Linked DNA regions of Homo sapiens: region 2 is linked to region 1. Evidence: fine-mapped expression QTL. A gene starts in region 1. The other region holds a variant in brackets. All regions are shown on one strand. Distances are from middle to middle.

Evidence for each region. PIP is the estimated chance that this variant, and not a neighbour inherited with it, causes the effect. A credible set is the group of variants that fine-mapping cannot tell apart.
Region 2: its variant is the best candidate, but not a certain one, in a credible set for the expression of MTUS2 in liver (GTEx, PIP 0.68).

Annotation. Positions count from the first base shown.
Region 1 is chr13:28,818,372-28,823,704 of GRCh38, reverse strand. MTUS2 (microtubule associated scaffold protein 2) reads right to left here and starts at 3,366. Exons shown (of 16, transcript NM_001033602.4): 1 at 3,094-3,366. RefSeq lists silencers at 3,392-3,461, 3,552-3,901 and an enhancer at 2,992-3,492.
Region 2 is chr13:28,952,937-28,958,311 of GRCh38, reverse strand. All of the region lies in intron 2 of MTUS2 (microtubule associated scaffold protein 2), which reads right to left. Among named protein-coding and RNA genes, the nearest start is that of MTUS2, 140 kb to the right of the region's middle. The variant A/G (reference allele first, on the strand shown) is at 3,072.

The DNA.
Region 1 (5,333 bases):
CATGCTACAGTGTTTTCAAATCCGTTGGAGGGTGGGAGCACAGACAAAATTGTTTGTGTTGAAAGCTGCAGTTCTTACGGGCCAAGGTTGAGGCCCAGTTGAGAAGAGGGCTCAGGGGAGCCTGACTAAAGTTTGGTCAAAAAGAGAGTCTCTGTGGATGGGTGGGTGGATGGTAGATAGATGACTGATGGATGGGTAATTGATAGACAAGGTATACCCGTTGGTGGGAAGGGTCAAGATGATAAGATCTAAAGGCATCCAAATTCACATAGGAAGTAGAAATCATTTCAGAGAAAAGGGGAAACTCCTTGACTCTTTTCAACAACTCGTTTCAAACATGTGTGTGGTAGATATTATAAGCCTCCCACTTGCTCATAAAAACTGCTAATGGGAACAAGCAGATACTCATCTAGTCCTTCCAAACCTGCATTTGTTTCCTGTAGGATATTTTCGAGGAATGAGTTTGTTTGCTTACTGTTGAAAATTCGTATTAGAGACCAATCCTGAGCTTACAGAAGGATCTCCTATGGAGCTGATGCTATCTGTTCCTATTAACATTTTATTAATGAAGCATCTTTCAATAGTTTTCCTTCCTTTCCCCTTGGCATCCTGCCTCTGAGAGGAGGAAGAGCTTTAACCCACTTTCCTCCCTTCCCCAACCCGTTTCCACTCTTCTCCACCTCCAGCTCACACACTGATCCAAAACAATCCCATGTGTGTGCGATCACGAGGCAAAGAGCTAGTTCTCCAGGTATGTGCCTGATTTCAGTGGCTCTATACAGCCCTAGGTTATAGCAGTTTGCATTTTCTCAGCAAGTCAACTATGATATTGTACAGATTTTTTTCATCTTTTCAGATGACAAAAATTAAACTAAGAATAGGCAATTTTATAAGTTAATACTTGAACACAGGTTTGAAGACAGGGATAGATTCAGGGTCTGTGGAACCTTGGGTTTATATAATTGGGGGGTGGGAATATAGAAAGAGTACTCTCCTTATTTAAAAAAAAAATCCAAAAGTACAAATACAAACTCAGGGATGACCACATGAACACACTGCCAGTGCCCCTCCCAGAGGGCTCCAAAGAAGCCTCTGTGACGGAGGGACCTGAGGCTTAGGTTCATTAGCTCCCCAGTCGATCTGCCTCTGCTGGAGATAGAAAGGACTAGAGAGGTTTCTGCCACAGCATTCAAATCTCTAGAAAATCGCTAAGCATAACAGTCTTCTATTACATCAATCCCCCAGATGCTATTCTTACCTCTCTTTCACAAACCACCATCCCTGCTGTTCCCTCCAATTTGGCAACAGCAATTCATTATAAAAGTGCGTATGCCGGAGTGGGTTTCGGCATCCTCCTGGATTTTGGCTTTAACAGTCTAGTTCCGTGTCAATTATGTAATAGCCCAAACAGGGAGTTTAATGGAGTACCAAAAGCACAGTCATAGCTCTTACATAAGCCTTCATAAACCATCCATAAGATCTGCTCCTAGATTTGGATATTTGGGATTACATAAGGGAGACAGAAAACACTGACTCAGAGGCCAGGTTTCTTTCTGACCTTAAAAACAATAAAAACTTTTTGCACTTAATTTACTAGTTTATAGTAAAAGTTTTTAATTTGATATGGAAAATAATCTTTCCTATGACTTACTTTACCGTGTAAACATAAATGAATATCCTGCCACTACTACTCAACTTTCATTGGTACTTCTGCAAATGAAATATATCACTTAAGATTCCCGTAAGTATTCTACATGGAATTATGGGTCCCTAATAAACATCAACTACTCTTCGCAGGAAAATCAAGAAAGAGCATTTAGACAAAACACAAAAGTCTACATGCTGTAATTCTCTGATGTGTCCCCTTTCCAATACCATTTTTTTCTTCCCATGTTTCTAACAACGTATTTTTGACTTACCTTAAACCACTGTAGCAACACCATAGGCTACAGAAAGTGACAATACAATGCTCCACAATGGGTCTCACCCCTGGCTACACGTTAGAATCACCAGGAAAGCTTTTTAACATTACAGGTATCAAGGTATCAGCCCAGACCAATTAGAACAGAATACTGGGTGGAGGAGGGACAAGGGCTGTTCCCAGCCATCAGTATATCTGATGTTTTCTACTTTTGTATTTTTACCTGAAAAAAATAGCCATAAATGTGAGTACTGGTTTTGGGGCCTGGGGAAAGGGAAGGGAAAGAGAGACACATCTTTAATAACTGGCAACTCACAATTACTAAGTTTCCATCAGAGATAAAAATAAAATCATTCAATAGTTTGAAAACTAGAAAGTATACATGTAGGATCTTTTTATCAATAAGTAGTCAAAGAATTCTCACCAATTCCTAATAGACTTTACAAAACCAATTTTTTAATGCTTTACAATTATACCTAATGACTTTTTTAATATAGGGTCCTATATTATCTTAAAAGGGTACCTCAAGCTAAGACCACTGCTTATCTCCAAGTAAACTAAAAGCATGACACTCTCTTCTTAGGTGCTCTGGTAATCACACATAACTTTACCAATGAGCAAATTTTTTTAAGCATTTATATAACAGAGAGTACAGGCGCCTTTGGTATCCTGCCAAGAGTACTTCTTTCCGTGTTTGTATTTAAAATAGAATGGTAGTAACATCACTTGTGTGCCTGTAATTCCTTCTGTGCACAGGCACAGAATGAAAAAAAAAAATGGATGTAGCAAGCCGCTTCACTGCTTTACCATTATAAAGCTTGAAGGAAATAACACACTCATACTAAATTAAGACGAAGACTCAGACCAAATTATCCAAAGCTGGGGGTGGGTAGGGGAGAACTCGCCTTAACTAACCTACCAACGCCTCTAAAGCAGTGGGTGTTGAACCTGGCAGCAAGCGAAGGTGCCAAAAGAGCTGCAGTCCCTAAGCCAGAGCAGGTGATGTGGGCAGGAAGCATCAGCGCTCTGGAGACGAGAAGCCGAACCAGCCCGGCGCTGCCCCGAGCCCGGCTGCGCGCTCCCCAACTCCGCTCACCTGTCTCCGGCGGGTCCAGAGGGCGGCAGCAGAGCCAGCCGACCCCACCGGACCGCGCAGCAGAGGATTCGCTCACCTGGGTCAAAAAGAGCCAAGAAAGATGTAATGTCCAAGAGGCCACCACTGCCCTCACGGAGACGCTCATCTCGGGCCGGGTTCCGCCACGCTGCTTCCTCCTCCTCTCCAGCTCGAGTTTTCTATTTACCGACAGGTCTGTACTCCGCTAAGCGGTCAAGGGTTTCCGCAGAAGGGGGGAGATAAACTTGCCCTGAGAGCCGGCGGCGGCGGCGCAGGTGGAGCGCGAGGGGCGCCCCCGCACCTGGAGCCGCCGGCGCTCGCTATCACCTCTGCCCGCCCACGCCCGCGCCGCGGCTGCGCTCCGCTCCGCGCCCCCGCACTCACCTCGGCGCAGGCACCGCCCAGGCCGCCGCCCCCGCTCGAGGGCCGGGGCGCAGCCGGGGACCGGAGCCGCCCGCACGACGCCCAGGCGCTCCCGGCTCCGCCGCGGCCGCGGCTGCTCCTCCAGCCGCCTCGCCTGGACAAAGAGAAGCCGCGGGGCCGGCGGCCGCCCAGCCCAACCTTCGCAGCGCGCCACGCAGCCGGCGCGCCTCGCCCGCGAGGTGCCGTCCGCGGTGACAGTGGCCGGGCGGCGAGCGGGCCCGAGCGGTAGGCGGCGCGGGGCAGCTGATGCGCGCACCCCCTCCCGGCCGCCCGGAGACGCACTCGCCGAGACCCAGGCGCCTCCTCCCGGCCCGCGCTCCGCGCCCCGCGCCCCGCGTCGCAGCTCCGCAGCCGGGAGCCGTAGCGCCCTCTGCCGACGGCCCCTGCGCCCGCTCCTGCGCGCGCGCCTGCCCGCCCCAGCCCCAGCCCCAGCCCCAGCCCCAGCCCCAGCCCCAGCCCCCGCCCCCGCCCCAGCTCCCGCCTCAGCCCCAGCCCCAGCTCCAGCCCCAGACCCAGACCCAGACCCAGCCTCCGCAGGCGGTGGGCGCGGCGCGGGCCGCTGCCCGCTGCGCGGCTGGTCACCGTGGTGCCCTAGCATCGGACCCCAGGAGAAAGGAGTAAGAATGAGTTGGCCGTTCCAGGGCAGGCCTCCAGGAATGGGTTCCGCTGTTTTCCGCTCAGAACAGAAGAGGGAGCCGCTTCGAATTAGGCGCAGCAGGAGGCATTGGGGTTCAGCATCGGGAAGAACTTTGGAGGACGCTAGGGTGCCTGATTCATAGGAGCCCAAAGCCAGTCTCTGAAAAGATTTGCGCAAAAGGCAGGCGTTTCTTTCTAGAAGCAAGCTTATTTCTATGTTTAATGAGCACCAAATGTGCCTCCCCACTGTCCGAGGGGTTCCAGCGAGCCTTGACTGCTCTTATGGTAAGGTAAATAGATTAATTAATGATTTCTCAAAGACCTTTTTCCAGTCCTACCTGAAATGCTCAGACTCCCTCACGCGGTGCACCTGGAGGTTTGAAAAGGCAAGCGAAACCAGAGGACTTCTGCAGACTGATTCAAACAGCAATGGAATAAACATTTACCATTATAAAGATGAAACGATGTTGCTGGTCTTTGCACTATTTAGGTTGGCGTTTTTTGTTTTTAGGGGATGTCTTTCCAAACCACTGTGTTAACCAATACTTTATGACAGTTAATTTTTTTTTTTAACCAACTGGACTACTTGGTGAAGGGAAATCATGAAATGGCACTTTTTTTTTTCAGACCACTGTCTTTAAAAATTATTCCAGAAGCTCTCCCTTCTCCCCTGGAAGAATCTGGGGCAAATTTCATAGCTTTTCCTGTCACTTTCAGGTGTTCATAAACAGTCAGATTTGCTGATAATAAAAAGTCCAGCCCAATCCAAATCAAAACTTTAATCGCAATCCATTCAAGCCTTCCCCACTAGCCTCCCACCACCCACCAGACCCCAACCTGACCCAAGCTCAGAAGCCTGCAAGGAGGAGGAAAACGACCTTCGCTTCCTGCTTCTGTGTTCTCCCCAGCTAGCTCTGTGAAGACGGGTTCCACCGCCGGGCACGGAGGCTCACGCTTGTAATCCCAGCACTTTGGGAGGCTGAGGCCGGTGGATTACTTGAGGTCAGGAGTTCGAGACCAGCCTGGCCAACATGGTGAAACCCTGTCTCTACTAAAAATACAAAAATTAGCTGGGTGTGGTGGCGTGCACCTGCAATTCCATCTCCTCAGGAGAATTGCTTGAACCTGGGAGGTGGAAGTTGCAATGAGCCGAGATCATGCCACTGCACTCCAACTGGGCGACAGAGCAAGCCTCTGTCAAAAAAAGAAGCCGGATGCGGTGGCTCACGCCTATAATCT
Region 2 (5,375 bases), 130 kb before region 1:
TTGCGGGAAAACAGGCAGCCCACGCCAAGTACAGACAGCTGGGAAAACGCCCTCCGCCTGGTGGCTCTACAAACCCACTATCCGGGGCAGCCGGAGATCACAGATAGGCTGGGAGCTGAGGATTCCAAACTACTATGCTAATTAAGCAGGAGGCACAAGTTAAATTCAGATGCCTAATAAGCACTTGGACATTTTTTCTTACTTTATTACTGTTAGAGCACAGCCAACGCTGACAATTCCAGCACAACGGGTTGCAGCACCTGTTCATTTCAGAAAAAAATGGCTGTGCTCGGAGACCATGCCCCAGGCATGTGGTTTTTCAAGGTGTCTAGGCTAGTAATTCATTAAAGGTCCACCTTACAGTTTTGTCACATGTCTCCTATCCCATGCCTATCACAAAACATAGAATGCTACATTCCTGAATTCCATAGCAAATAGAACCAATTCCTGGCATCATATTGCAGGGTTCATGCACATCTGTGCTTCTGAGAGAAAAGACGTGGTTCCCAAGAAAGAGTGTGAGTTTAGAATCAGAGAGTTCTAAATTCACCTCTGTGGCCTTGGCAAGTTACCTGAATACAGCCATCTCCCAGTATCCACAGGGCATTGGTCCCAGGACCCCCCCCTCCAGATACAAAAATCTGTGGGTGCTCAAGTGTCTGACATAAAATGCCATAGTATTTGCATCTAACCTGAGCACATCTTCCTGTATACTTTAAATCCTCTCTAGATTACTAGTAATACCCAACACAATGTAAATGCTAGATAAATAGTTGTTATTCTGTATTATTTAAGAAAGAGTGACAAGAAAAAAAGTCTGTGCATGTTCAATATAGATGCAATCCTCCTTTTTTCTGAATATTTTCAATCCACAGTTGGATGAATCCATTAATGTGGAACCAAGGGATACAGAAGACCAAAATGTAATAGAATAAGGAAAGTATCCCCCGCTTTACTGACTTATGATAAACTTTGGAGAGAAGAACCATGGTGCAAAGGAAACATGGGTATTGAATGAATGGCAAATGTCATCACTGGTATTAATTTTTTTATGTGTAAGGAAAAGATCACCTCTTCATAAAGGGAAAGGATACCAGACACTAACACCAACTGATTAGCACCCATGCTAATGGGCCAAAGTACCAAGTTGTTTCTATTCCAGTGAGAATCCAACCATTATCTCCACGTCCAGAGCTCTTTGTACACTGTGATACATCTTTTAGCACATGTGGAAAGGCAGGTGCAAGCTCCAGACTATGAAAGCATTGCTCTTTCTCTAGGGCAGCCTTCTTCCTTCTGTCCCTGCCACACTTCCTTCCCGCCAGCTCACCTATCTCTAGGGCAGCCTTCTTCCCTCTGTCCCCCAACACTTCCTTCCCACCAGATCGCCCATCTCGAGGGCAGCCTTCTTCCCTCTGTCGCCATCACACTTTCTTTCCACCAGCTCACCCATCTCTAGGGCAGCCTTCTTCCCTCTGTCCCCGCCACACTTCCTTTCCGCCAGCTCACCCATCTCTAGGGCAGCCTTCTTCCCTCTGTCCCCGCCACACTTCCTTCCCACCAGCTTATCCATACAACCTCCCCAGGACTGCCTCCCACTGCTCCCTCACTCCCTCTATCTCCCTTTAATCCTCCAAGTTACAGTGTTTGTTTCATTGGTGTTTTTGTTTCTTCCAGCTATACACACTCCCCTGAAGTTTGGGTCTTTATTATGTATGGTCTTTACCCAGTAGCCCCCTCTGCTTTCAGTGCAACCCTCCTGACCTCTCATATCTCCAATTCTACAGGATTCTATCCTTTTTGAAAAAAGAGGCTTTGGTGGGGAAGCCAACCAAGTTTTACTGGGATGTTTCATACAAAGGTGGGAAGCCAACCTCCAGTGGGGGTGGAGCAGGTAGACCAGAAGGAGCACTGGGTTGCTGCCGCCCTATTGAACTGATGTGGCACCATCTACAACCTGTGGCAGGCGAGAACCTTAAGGGAGACTCCTACCCGGTGCTGGGGATAGGAGTGAGGGTGAGGGTGGGGACTGAAAAAAGCTAGTGACAACCATGGCGGAAATGATCTTGTGACTGAATCAAGAAAATTCATCCATGTCTATGAGATTAGAGACTATTATTCTAAGTGAAGTAACTCAGGAATGGAAAACCAAACATTGTATGTTCTCACTGGTATGTGGGAGCTAAGCTATGAGGACGCAAAGGCATAAGAATGACAGAATGGACTTTGGGGACTTGGGGGAAAGGATGGGGGGGGGCAAGAGACAGAAGACTACAAATATGGTGCTGTGGATACTGCTGGGGTAACGGGTGCACCAAAATCTCACAAATCACCACTAAAGAACTCACTCACATAACCAAATACCACCTGTGTCCCAATAACTTCTGGAAATTTTTAAAAAAAGAAAATTCATCCATGTCTGGAGCAAAGCAAGGTGTCTAAAGTTCCCATGATGGTCCAAGCAGAAAGGGGCATGCCATGAAGGCCTGCAGTGGCCCCTCTTAGATCAGGACTGGCTCAGGCAGGCACTTCTCCCTGGTGCCAGGTCAAGTGGGTGCTGGAATTCTATCTGGCATGTGAGAGTGATAAAGTGTCAACCTCAACCTCCCCATAGATGACAGCAGAAAGGAATGAGGGAGACAATGGCATCTGAAGGGAGGGGGAGTAAGAAAGGATTGGCTTACAAATGAAGCTTTCATTTCAGCAGTGAAAACCATCTCAGACACGGCCATCCATTTTCCCAGACACAGACACCTAGAAAACCATCACATATATGGGTCACACTGAGCCCCTCACTTACATCAGAGACCTTTTATGGCGGCATCATTAAGCTATTTATAGTGAGCAATTAAAGAGGACCTAAGTGGGCCACCACATTCCCATCTGGCTGGCTCTGGCTAATGTGGCAATATGCTGACAACAAGATAAAGGCTTTCCTTAAATGCTGTACCACACAAAAGCTGCCTCTAGATACTTATAAATCTGCTTTTAGTTTGTATTTATATTTTATTCTTTAAAGTCAGTTCAATTATGCATGGGGTGCATTAACCATAATGCAAGCTGCATTACGC[A/G]AAACTTCACAGAAATCGTGCAATGTCAGGCTGGTATTACTGTGGGCAGGTGGCAGGGGCGCAGATGTAACATGTGGGTAAAAGACAGTGTCATAGGTTAGAAAGGGCAAAGTCTTTGGATCCTATCAGACCAGACTCTGAATAGCAGCTCTGCCAATAAACATAACCCAGTGAAAACTGGTCTCGTTACTCAGTTTTCTTACCTGTAAGACCAGGATCGATTGCTGACTCCACAGTGTTCTTGCATGGGAAGTGCCTAATGAACCTTGGCATCTGGAATTGCTCAGTAAATGGTAACTGTCTGGGGGCAGTCAACAGAGCACAGGCCAAATAAGGTCATGGTTATGAAGAGACTTCTGAATGGACTCTACTCCAACCACCCCTCGAAGTGACCTTTCCAAAACAAACTCAGCCCTATACGTAAGTCTCCCATGCTGGAGGCCCCACCTCTGATCATGTAGGGCTGATCACTCCTAACCTGATCATTCCCCTCTCTCCTCACATATCCACTTCACCAAACTATTGCACATGCGTGTGTGCTTATGTCACACACGTTCTTGGAAGGCCACCTTTTCCATTCCACCTGTTAAAATCCTACCTCTGCTTCACGGCTCCACTTCAATGATGCTCCCACACCACCACCTTCCTCCTCAGAATCTCTTAGCACTGCCCACACCCACTCCCCATATGGGCCACTATGAATACATTCCTGAATAAAGGAACACACCCTCCCTCCTAATTCTGCCCAGCTGCATTCGGTTAGGAAATGCCCCGTGTGCATGGACTAATGAGAGAAGAAACTAATGGAAGGTCACAATTTTCTTTTGTTTTTAGGTAATTAATCTTGTACCATCTGTGTCATCTGTAGTGCCTTGAAATTAAGAAGTGACCCACTGGGATATTCCCTCAGACTTGTCAGCACTTATGGTGTGAGGTCAGCAAATGACTTGACTGTCATTGTCACAGTCACTGAAATACACCAAAATGAGCCGCCACTGAGAAATTCTTCAGCAAAGATTCTGCATTTTTCTGTGGAATTTATTCGCAAATGCCATGAATATTTATCTGCATTGTTGATAAAAATGAACACACTCTGCAAATTCTTTTTTCCCCTGAAATTTTTAAAAAGTAGATATATTTTAAATATACTACTCTTTTAACAACAGAATTTAAATACCGCATTGTCATATTTTAAACTTTTACTTATACTGAGATCTATTTCTGGAGTCTCCATTCTGTTCCATTGACACATTTGTCTATCACATTGATTTTATTATAGTAGCCCTTATAGTATGTTTTAACATCTGACAAGGGAAGCCTTAACGCCCCCTTCAGTATGTTTTTGGGACTCAAATAAATGGTGCTGACACCTTTGGCTGTCTATTTGGAACAAAATTAATTTGGTCCTCTTACTTGCCCCATATGTAAAAATTACACAAAGTAATTTTACTAAAATACATAAAAGGAAAGGCTAGATGTCAAAAATAAGCCAATAGGCTCTTAAGAAGAAAATCTAGGGAGGGGACTATATGTACAACCTAGGAATGCATGGAGAGCTTATCCCACAAAACATATAAACATAATACTAAAGATACATATTTGGCTATATGGAAATTTTAAAATTTTGCAAAAGCAAAAGATATCACAAGCAAAGTTGAAAGACAAATAAAAGGCCTAAAAATATTTGCAATAAACATTTTTAAATAAAATGCTGATATCAATAGAGCTTTTGAGACAGAGTTTCACTCTTGTTGCCCAGGCTGGAGTGCAATGGCCTGGTCTCGGCTCACTGCAACCTCCACGTCCAGATTTCAAGAGATTCTCCATTCTCAGTCTCCCAAGTAGCTGGGATTACAGGTGCACACCACCATGCCCGGCTAATTTTTGTATTTTTAGTAGAGATGGGGTTTTACCATGTTGGCCGGGCTGGTCTCAAACTACTGACCTCAGGCGATCCACCCACCTCGGCCTCCCAAAGTGCAGGGATTACAGGCATGAGACACTGCGCCCAGCCTAGAGCTCTTAGTTGATAGAAAAGCAACTCAGTAGAAAAATGTGCAAAAAAAAAAAAAATGAATAGGAAATTCCCAGCAAAGTCAAGAACAAAAAGACCAAGTGTATAGAAAGCTGCTCAAACTCAACATTTCCATCCAGATGCAAAAATCATAAAGATTAGCACTTATTGCTAACAGAGATGTCAAGAAAGGGGCATTCTCACAAATTGCTAATGGCAACTGTTAAAAAAATTTTAGAAGCAATCTGGCAATAGCTATTGCTAAAGGTACATTTTAATGAGATCCCACT